2 linked regions of the Homo sapiens genome follow. The protein of the gene in region 1 purifies or fractionates together with the protein of each later gene. This does not show direct contact. Each region holds a gene or a part of one and is shown in the gene's direction. Other genes may lie near its edges.

Evidence for each region. The genes of interacting proteins can lie anywhere in the genome.
Region 2: the proteins of RBKS (region 1) and RPE fractionate together in Homo sapiens (co-fractionation; one large-scale study listed by BioGRID). This does not show direct contact.

The regions. Positions count from the first base shown.
Region 1 is NC_000002.12:27,837,668-27,842,690, reverse strand, and holds part of RBKS (ribokinase), read left to right. Parts: intron 1-5,023. UniProt on the Homo sapiens protein: Catalyzes the phosphorylation of ribose at O-5 in a reaction requiring ATP and magnesium. The resulting D-ribose-5-phosphate can then be used either for sythesis of nucleotides, histidine, and tryptophan, or as a component of the pentose phosphate pathway.
Region 2 is NC_000002.12:210,011,849-210,016,871, forward strand, and holds part of RPE (ribulose-phosphate 3-epimerase), read left to right. Parts: intron 1-4,124; coding exon 4,125-4,264; intron 4,265-4,355; coding exon of another isoform or gene 4,356-4,409; intron 4,410-4,658; coding exon 4,659-4,793; intron 4,794-5,023. UniProt on the Homo sapiens protein: Catalyzes the reversible epimerization of D-ribulose 5-phosphate to D-xylulose 5-phosphate.

The DNA.
Region 1 (5,023 bases):
GAGTGAGACTCCGTCTCAAAAAAAAAAAAAAGAATTCCTGAATCAGCCCCTTGTCCAAGGTACACTCTAGGTGGTGAAATGTTTTCTACTCTGAGAAGCAGAGGTTAAGCTGCATGTCATACATACAAATACATGCATACATACAAAAGTAACTGGGGCAGCCCAGTTACTTTTTGACAAACATCTCTAGGAATTGAAGATTAGGTTTTTTCTCCTTTTTGTAAAACTTTATCATCTTTCAATAAACAACAAAAGATTATTTATATGTAATATTTTCTATGTTATCAATGTCCATTGACATTGCCTCTTTTGTTTTTGATTTTGGAAATTTTCAAACCTACAAAAGCAGCAGAATTGTACAGTGAAATCCATCACCCAGCTTCCAGTTATCAACCTGTAGCTAATCTTGATTCATCTTTTCTCCCACTCACTCCTCTTTTCTCACCTCCAGCAAATAACAAACTTTTTAAAAATCCAGATGATTTATTTGTTTGCTTCCTTTTCACCACTGACTAGTGGGGAAAGCATCTTCTGAATTAGAATCCCATTTCTGTCCCTTGTCAGCTTCGTGGTCCTAGCAGAATTACCTGATTTGTCTGAGCCTTTTCAGTAAAATGCATATAGAAATACTCCATCTGCAGAATTGTTCTCAGGATGGAATAAAATAAAATAGGATGCCAAGCATGGTGTAGTACATGGTGGTAAATCCCAATTTTTTCCTCTTCAATCCACTTCTCTCTTTAAAGTTAGGATAATATCCTGATCAAGCATCATTTGGTGAAAAAAATCAAAATAAATAGTAGCCACTCTAACATGATGACTTCTTGATATTGTGGCAATAGTTCTGTGATTTTTTTAAAGAATAAAATAGAGAACCACACTGACTATTTCTCAAGATACAAAACTAAAAAGAAAAAAGAAAAAGAACAGTGTGTGTGTGTGTGTGTGTGTGTGTGTGTGTTTATATAAGTGATTTCTCCCAAAGTGTGTAGTGTTCTACATAGAAATAAATGGAAAATAAGTCACTGAAATGATTTTGTGGAGAATTTTAAAATGTTCGTCCTGATTTAACAAATTTTCCTCTTGGCAAAACAACATGCTGTGGTAAATTTTCCCTGACATTTAGTGTATTTTTAATGGACATGAAGCTGTCAGAAAGAATTCTAAGCCAAAACCCATTTGGTTCCATTTTCTTGGAGTGTCACAGTAAAGTCTAATGCTTATGGTTACGCATTCTCTGCACCGTGCCCATCTCAGCAGAGTGATGTGAATACAGGGTGCCACCCTGCTCCTGCTCTTGTCTTTCTTTGTATAGATCAAAGCACATTCTCGTGTAACTTCTCTTTTTTTCCTACTATCCCTTACTGCTCAGAGATCACTGTTCCCTCTGTCCTAGTCTAGTTGCCTGTTACCTACCCTGCTTGTGAAGGAGAGAAAGATACAGCAGCCACAGTTGAGGAGCTAACCTTTCACAGGTGAGAATAGAGTAATCCGGATGGGCAGGCAGCCTACCCTGGGGCTGTCATTGGGTGGGGTCCAGAAAGGCTTCCTCCATCACCTTCCGTGTAGCTCTTCCAGTTGGGAGCTGGAGGACCCAGGACAGCAGGAAGCGGGGTAGGTGACAGTGGGCCACAGACCACTTGGCCTACTTCACACTTTTATTAAGAGCCAGCATGCCTTGGTATTAATTCTGCATGAACTTCCTTATATAATAATAGCAGAAATAGTAATACCATGCATTTATATGTACTTTACATCTTATAAAGTACTTTCGTACACATTTTACCCTCAGAAAAACCTTATGACAAAGATATGGCAGGCATTGTTCTCTCAGATTAAAGGTGAGAAGACTGAGACTGAGAGGTTAAGTCATTTGTTCAAACAGTGTCGCACTTTAAGTTGAAGAAACCATGATTTCAGACTCTAAGACCCAAGTTCTGTCTCCTAGTTTAAACCACACTTTAAAGTGCCACAACCCATTGATTCCAACAAACTGAGCCTTTATGAAGAGTATCTCTAGAAAAGTCAAGTCCATAAATTTTAACACTGTCCAGCACGTGGCCTAAGCTTTATGTGTTTTTGCTGCTCAAGAAACAGAGAAGAGGCTCTACAGTGTTTTCAGCACTGTAACCCCAATAGAACTTACACACACACACACGAACACACATGCACACAAGCACACACACTCATGTGTCCATTACTCCTCCAGTCCGGTGGCTTTCTCTGGCCAAGTCAGCTGGTCCCTATTTGGTAGATACCGGCCAGATGCAGCTTAGATTCTATTCCATGAGGAGGGTGTGTGTGTGTGTGTGTGTGTGTGTGTGTGCGCGCGCGCGTGTGTGTGTGTGTGTGTGTGTGTGTGTAATGCATCATCATTCTCATATGCAAGAAGAGTGGTATCCCAGCACTTTGGGAGGCCGAGGTGGGTGGATCATGAGGTCAAGAGATCGAGACCATCCTGGCTAACACGGTGAAACCCCATCTCTACTCAAAATACAAAAAAATTAGCCGGGCATGGTGGTGGGTGCCTGTAGTCCCAGCTACTCGGGAGGCTGAGGCAGGAGAATGGTGTGAACCCAGGAGGCGGAACTTGCAGTGAGCTGAGATCGCGCCACTCCACTCCAGCCTGGGTGACAGAGCGAGACTCCATCTCAAAAAAAAAAAAAAAAAGAAGAAGAGTGGTATAATGAAAGGAGACCATTGGTTTGGGAATTGTGAAATATGGCTTTAAATTCATAATCAATCAGCAAATGGGGGATCTCAGTCAAGTAAGTCAGTTCCTCACTCTGGACGTCATTTTCTTCTTCTGTGAAACCAGAATTGGGCTGACAGCTCTCACAGTTCTTTCATGTCACTTTGGACTGATCCCAGAGCAGAGTGGGCTTAATGATCTCTTGAGCACTGAGCACCCTACCCACTGCCCCAGGAAGCTGCCTATGTGCTGAACAGCATTATTCCGTCTTCAAGAACGATGATAAAGTCTTCATCGTCATCATCATCTATGGGTTTTCTTATCACAGTTCCATTATCTTTACTGCTTACAGGTAGTGAATTTTGAATTAAGCACATTGCATAACTAGATTATGCTAATATATCAGTTATGAAAATCCAGAGGAAAAGATCCCTACATCTTTGAATATACTGTCTCAAAACTCTCTGTCGCTATCAAAATGAAAGCATTGATTTTTAAAGACATAGTAGCTACAACACCAAAAATCGGTAGCCCTGTATAGCCACCCCCATCCCCACCAGGCCATGAAGCTATGAGGTAGGCCCACTGAAGAGCCAGTGCTGCAGCTGCTTGTGATGAAATTATGCATGTTGGTTCTGGTCTTTATATCCATTTCCAAGCAAATGGAACAGTACATAAACAATTATAAATAATTGAGATTGTAAAATTGCCAAAGTTAAATTATCAGTATGATACAAAGTATCTTTTAATGCCACTTCAGTCCTTTTGCCTTTGGCAAACAAAACTTCTTATCTGGCCATCCAGACTTTCACAATGACATTGTCCAGCACATAGCCCAAGCTTTGAGTGTTTTTGCTGCTCAAGTCACAGAAAAGAGCCTCTAGAGTAATGGACAGCAAAGCCAGTATTTTGAGTGTCCCAACATGCTCACAGTGTCTTCACTCAGGGTGATTTTCTTCCCCGGTTTCTCTGAGCTAATAATTAGGGCCTTCCTAACTGTCCAGCCCCTGCCCTCCGTGACAACACCATAAAGAGTTTCTGCCTCATTTTCCTGCCTTTTAGCCTATACAACTGCTCCTCCAGGCCTCACCAGTTCCTTATTGACATTATTGTGCTATCCATTAACATGCAGTTAAGATAACTAGGAGTTTAGTTCATCTGACACTGTAATTAATAATAATTACTGTTGGGTGCTACCAGTCACCTCTGCAACTCCAAGTTACTCCATGGTACAGTCTGTGTTCTCTAGCTCTGCCTGGTCCCAGGATGACATCATGGCTTCCACCTTGTCTATTACAGATTTGCATTCTTCTTTGATTAACTGCATCTACTAATTTATGTTTCTTTCATCATGGTGGAGTATGCTCATTTGTGGTAGCACAAGCTGAGAAGAATGCTTTCTTTATGGCATTTACACTTTTCCCCTAAATTTAGTTACCAGTCAGACTCTAAGCCTATGTATCCAGTTACTATTGAAGAATGCTGTCCCTCAGTAAAGTACAGGCAAATAAGGTTGATTTTTATACAGTATTTACAGTAAAATTATGGAATTCCTTATTCTAGCAATTGGTACCTAAATTTTAATGTAATTTTTTCCTTAAAATTTGCTTTTATTGTGGAAAATTTCAAATATATATAGACATACAGAGAATAGTATGGTAAACCTATATATACTATCATTTAGCTTCAACAGTTACCAACATGTGGCCAGTCTTTTTTTCTACTTTTAAATTCCATCTTTTATTTTAGACACGGGGGTACATGTGCAGACTTGTTTTTGTTTTGTTTTTGTTTGTTTGAGATAGAGTCTCATTCTGCCCGCCCAGGCTGGAGTGCAGTGGCATGATCTCAGCTCACTGCAGCCTCCACCTCCCATATTCAAGTGATTCTTATGCCTCAGCCTCCCAAGTAGCTGGGATTACAGGCAGGCACCACCACACCCAGCTAATTTTTGTATTTTTAATAGAGATGGGGCTTCACCATGTTGGCCAGGCTTGTCTTGAACTTCTTACCTCAGGTGATCCACCTGCCTCAACCTCCCAAAGTACTGGGATTACAGGCATGAACCACCGCACCAGGCCTTCATATGCAGATTTGTTACATGGGAGTATTGCGCCCAGGTAGGGAGCACGGTACTCAATAGGTAGCTTTTCAACCTGTGCCCCTCCCTGCTCCAGTACTCTGTAGTGTCTGTTGTTCCCATCTTTCTGTCCATGCGTACTCAATATTTAGCCCCCACTTATAAGTGAATACATGTGGTATTTGGTTTTCTGTTCTTATTTTAATTTGATTAGGATTATGGCCTCCAGCTCCATCTATGTTGCTGCCAAG
Region 2 (5,023 bases), about 180 Mb from region 1:
TTTTTTTACTTTTTGTAGAGATGGGATCTCCCTGTATTGCCCAGGCTAATCTTGAATGCTTGGGCTCAAGCCATCCTCCTGCCTTGGCTTCCCAAAGTGTTGTGATAGTAGGTGTAAGTCACTGAGCCCGACTACCTTTGTTTTTTATATTGAGAAACATTTGTTTAATTCTTGGATTTTGGTTGTTGGATAATTGATACATGAATGTATTCTAGGACCTAGATTACATGTTGTGTTGTATATGTAACGCTAACATTCTTAACTGTTCAGTTTTCATATTGAGTAGAAATAAATGTCTAAGAAATACAGTGATGGGAAAAGTCTGTTCCTGTTATTGTCTAAATCAGTGATCCTCAAGTATGTTGTATAAGGACCCACACAAATCCTTAAGACCCTTTCGGGTCATCCATGAGAGTATATCAAAACTATTTTCATAATCCTAAGAAATTATTTGCCATTATTTCTACTGATGGTACAAAAACATTGATGAGTTAGTTTGCTGGTGCCTTAACCAACTCAAGGCAGGGACTGTATCAGGAGTTATTCTTCATCATCATGCATTTGCAATAAATATCCTTGATGAAGCAGTAGAAATTAATAAATCTTGGTCCCTGAATACATGCCTTTTTAATATTTTGTGTGGCAAAGTAGGAAGTGCATATAAAGTGCTTGTGCTGCATTGCTGCATACTGGAACATAATGGTTTTCTCAAGGAAAACCACTTGCACCATAGAGGTGTGATCTGAACTAGCTGCTTTCCTCCAGAACACTATGTTTGTTTGAAAGAACAACTGACAGATCAACTATGGTTTTTCAGACCTGGCTATTTTAATGACATTTAAAAAATATTAACTAAATGAGGCTGTCTCTTCAAGGAAAGATACCTTGTCAGTTTTTGTTCCCAAAATTAGAATTTTAAAAAACTTGTGTATCTTACCACTCTGGGTTTGATAGCGTCCCAACAGTTAACAAGCTTTTCTGATGAGATCTGTAGTTATTTTACCAAATGTGATTTTGGGGTACTATGGAATGAAATCTGTCACTATTTGTAAGATGTGTGTAACTCAGTAAATCAGTACTTAAAAGACCCATTCAAAATACAAGACAAACAATGGGTTTTAATGTAACAAAGAATGAAAAGCTCATTGATAGGGTTTACAGAGTGCACACTGCAGCTAACCTTTATAAAATTACCACCCAGCACATTTAAGATAGGCTAGGCTAAGCTATGATGTTTGGTGTGTTAGGTATATTAAATGCAGTTAGAGATAACAGTATTTTCAATTTAGATTGAGTTAATTGGGATGTAACCCCATTGTAAGTTACAGAACATCTGTATTACAACAGATTAGATACAGAACAGATGTGAGAATATAGGTGTCTTCTGTTAAGCCAGACACTGAAAACTTGCAAAAATGTAAAACAAATAATACCACTCTTAATTAATAGGTAATAGAGTTATCCTTTTTTTTTTTTTTTTTGAGACAGTCTTGCTCTGTCACCCAGGCTAGAGTGCAGTGGTGGCCTTCATACCTCACTGAAGCCTCAGTCTTGATGGGCTCCAGCAGTCCTCCCACCTCACCTCTCCCCTCCAGTAGCTGGGACTGCAGGGGCACACTACCATGCCTAGCTAATTATTCTGTTGTTGTTGAGAAGGAGTCTTACTATGTTGCCCAGGATGGTCTCAAACTGGGCTCAAGCCATCCTCCCTCCTCAGCCTCCTAAGATTATAGGTGTGAGCCACCAAACCCGCCAAAAATTACATGCTTTAAAATGTCTTAGTTTGAATTTCTCATACATTAAATATCTATAAATATAATCCATATCAACAGAAGTTTCTTGGGGTCTTTAATAATTTTTAAGAGTGTAAACTCCTGGGCTCAAGCAATCCACTTGCCTTGGCCTCCCAAAGTGCCAGGATTACAGGCTTGAGCCACCGCACCTAGCCATATATAGTGTTTTTTTAATGTAACTTAGAATTTAATAGACCTTAGATTCTTTTTAATCAGCATATTGTTGACCAAGTTTATGAATAATAGATTATGATTATAATAGATGATAGAATGATTGGGAATTGCTGATCTAATGTTAACTATGCACAGATTTGCTGAACCATTGACTCCCTGAACACCATAGAACTTCTCCATTGAGGGTTGCTAGTGGTTACTGGATGCTAGAGGTTGAGTAAGGATGACATAGCTAGCAGTCTGGTAACTTAAGGAATGAATAGAGTAGGTTTTTTTGTTTTTTGTTTTTTTTTTGAGATGGAGTCTCGCTCTGTCGCCCAGGCTGGAGTGCAGTGGAGCGATCTCGGCTGACTGCAAGCTCCGCCTCCTGGATTCACGCTGTTCTGCCTCAGCCTCTCGAGTAGCTGGGATTACAGGCGCCCGCCACCACGCCCAGCTAATTTTTTTGTATTTTTAGTAGAGATGGGGTTTCACCGTGTTAGCCAGGATGGTCTCGATCTCCTGACCTCGTGATCCACCCGCCTTGGCCTCCCAAAGTGCTGGGGTTACAGGCGTGAGCCACCGCGCCCGGCCTGGAGTAGGTATTTTAAACCGGCTTGAATTTTCCTTGTTTATGATGCAAAGAATAAGAAACACCAGATTTAATACATTTTTTTAAGAATAAAGTTTTACCTATTAAAATATGTTCTAATTTAGGCCGGGTGTGGTGGCCCATACCTATAATCCCTGCACTTCGGGAAGCCAGCGTCAGAGGATCACTTGTGGCCAGAAGTTCGAGACCAGCCTGGGAAACAGTGAGAACTCATCTCTATTAAAAAAAAAAAAGTTCTCATACAATTACTTTTGCTGGATTAGAAATACAAACGTTAATCTTGACTTTATTAGTCAAGCTTTATACTTTCTTTTTCTGACTTTTTTTTTTCAAGGCTTTATTGTATTTCATAATTGTTCTGAAATGTTAGAATTTTTTTCTTAAATATAGCTTGGCTGTTTCAGAAATGTGCTTCCTCTAGCAAAATAAAAAACTTAAAACCTCTCCTCACTACCATCTATCAAACACAGGATTCTTCACAGTGTTATTTCTTGGTTTAGCTTGTTTTAAGCTGCCCTCTCCTTCTTATGAAATGCTATTATGTTTTAAATCAAGATCTTTAAGAAGGCCATGCCCATTTTCACCTTATGTGTTTATATGAATCAAGCTTTAGAATTAGGATGAATATCAGGTTTCTTGCAGTCAACATGTCCTTCCCCCTAAATTTGTTCTTGCAGTCTTGCCTCTCAATTAATGGCAGTTCCGTTCTTCTAGTTGATAAGGTCAAAATCCTTGATGCCATCTTTATTTTCCTCTCATCTATCTATCCATGGAGGATCCTCTTATCCTCCACATCTCATCTATCCTCAGCTCTCTTTGCTCTTATTTAAGAACATATCCATCCCGAATTGCTGCCATCATTTTTCACCTGGGTTATTGCTATCGTAGCTTCCTCAGTCGATAGTATCTTGTCACTTCACTGTGGTGGTTTTTCCCAGTGGCCTGCAGAATGCTGAAGGGTTTCTCCTCACCACATGCTTCCCTGACCTCTGACTGGTGTATCTCCTTCCCCAGGCACACCAGCCATATTAACTGCCAACCTAGTGTGCATTTTACTTACTTATTTTGTTTATTGTTTGACTCTCGCATTAAGAATGTAATCCCTATGACAGGAGAGTTTCATGTTTTTGCTCTAACCCTAGGACCTAGAATAATTAATGATGCAGCAATAGCTCGATAAATTGAAAGAATAAATGAAAAGGATCACTTAATTTTTCCTAGAGGAAACTAGTTTGCATGGATAGTATGACTTATTCTTTAAGTTTTTTAGAGTGGCATTTCCTGGACCTGGACCTAGATTTCCTGATTTTTAGATGTTAACTTTTTATATACAGCACTGTATGCTTTTTGTGGGAAAATAGTGTTTTTTGTAAATGAATTTAAATAAATCCTTGTCTTCAAAATAAGAGGAAACTACCTATACTGAATTAGAACTATTTAAATAATGATTTGTGTGATGGCCAAAGAGTTCTTATCAGAAGTGGCAAAAACTACATACAGGTTGGCTTCCAATAACATGAGCCAGGTATTTTTCAGTAATATTTTGAAGTGTCTTTTCTTTCTAGACATGCACATGATGGTGTCCAAGCCAGAACAGTGGGTAAAGCCAATGGCTGTAGCAGGAGCCAATCAGTACACCTTTCATCTCGAGGCTACTGAGAACCCAGGGGCTTTGATTAAAGACATTCGGGAGAATGGGATGAAGGTAAGAAATCGTGATGAGAGTGTTTTGTAACATTCACTCTCAGTTGGGAAGATTTGCGGGAAACAGGAAATTTTCTCTTTTTTTGATACAGTCTTGCTCTGTCACCCAGGCTGAAGTGCAGTGGCACAGTCAGGGCCCATTGCAGGTAAAGAATACCTTACTTAAGCAGCTGTTCTTCAGCTATGATGCCAGGATTTAACTTCTTTGTCACATAGCATTTATGTATTCCACTAAAGTTTTCTGAAAGCTACTGCTTGTTGAAAATACTTACATTTAATAGTCTTGTTAACTTTTAAAAAATAAGAACAGATATTTCTACTGGGCCTGCTATGCCACAATAATATAATACAGAAGTAATTGTAAATGTGATATAGCATATTTGTGTCTGTTACAGGTTGGCCTTGCCATCAAACCAGGAACCTCAGTTGAGTATTTGGCACCATGGGCTAATCAGATAGATATGGCCTTGGTTATGACAGTGGAACCGGGGTTTGGAGGGCAGAAATTCATGGAAGATATGATGCCAAAGGTAAAAGAAGTATTTGATTTTGGGGTGAGGCTTTTACAGTGTGTTCATTCAGTAAGCATTTATTGAAAGGCTTGTATATTTAGGCATAACCTGTTCTGAAGGTGAGGAGATGGGGATGCTTACAGATCATTCTAATACAGTATAATAAATGCTGTAATAGATTTCTGATTTGGAAATCAGAGAAGTATTACATCTTTATCTTGAAATTTTCTCTTTCTTTGAGACAAAGT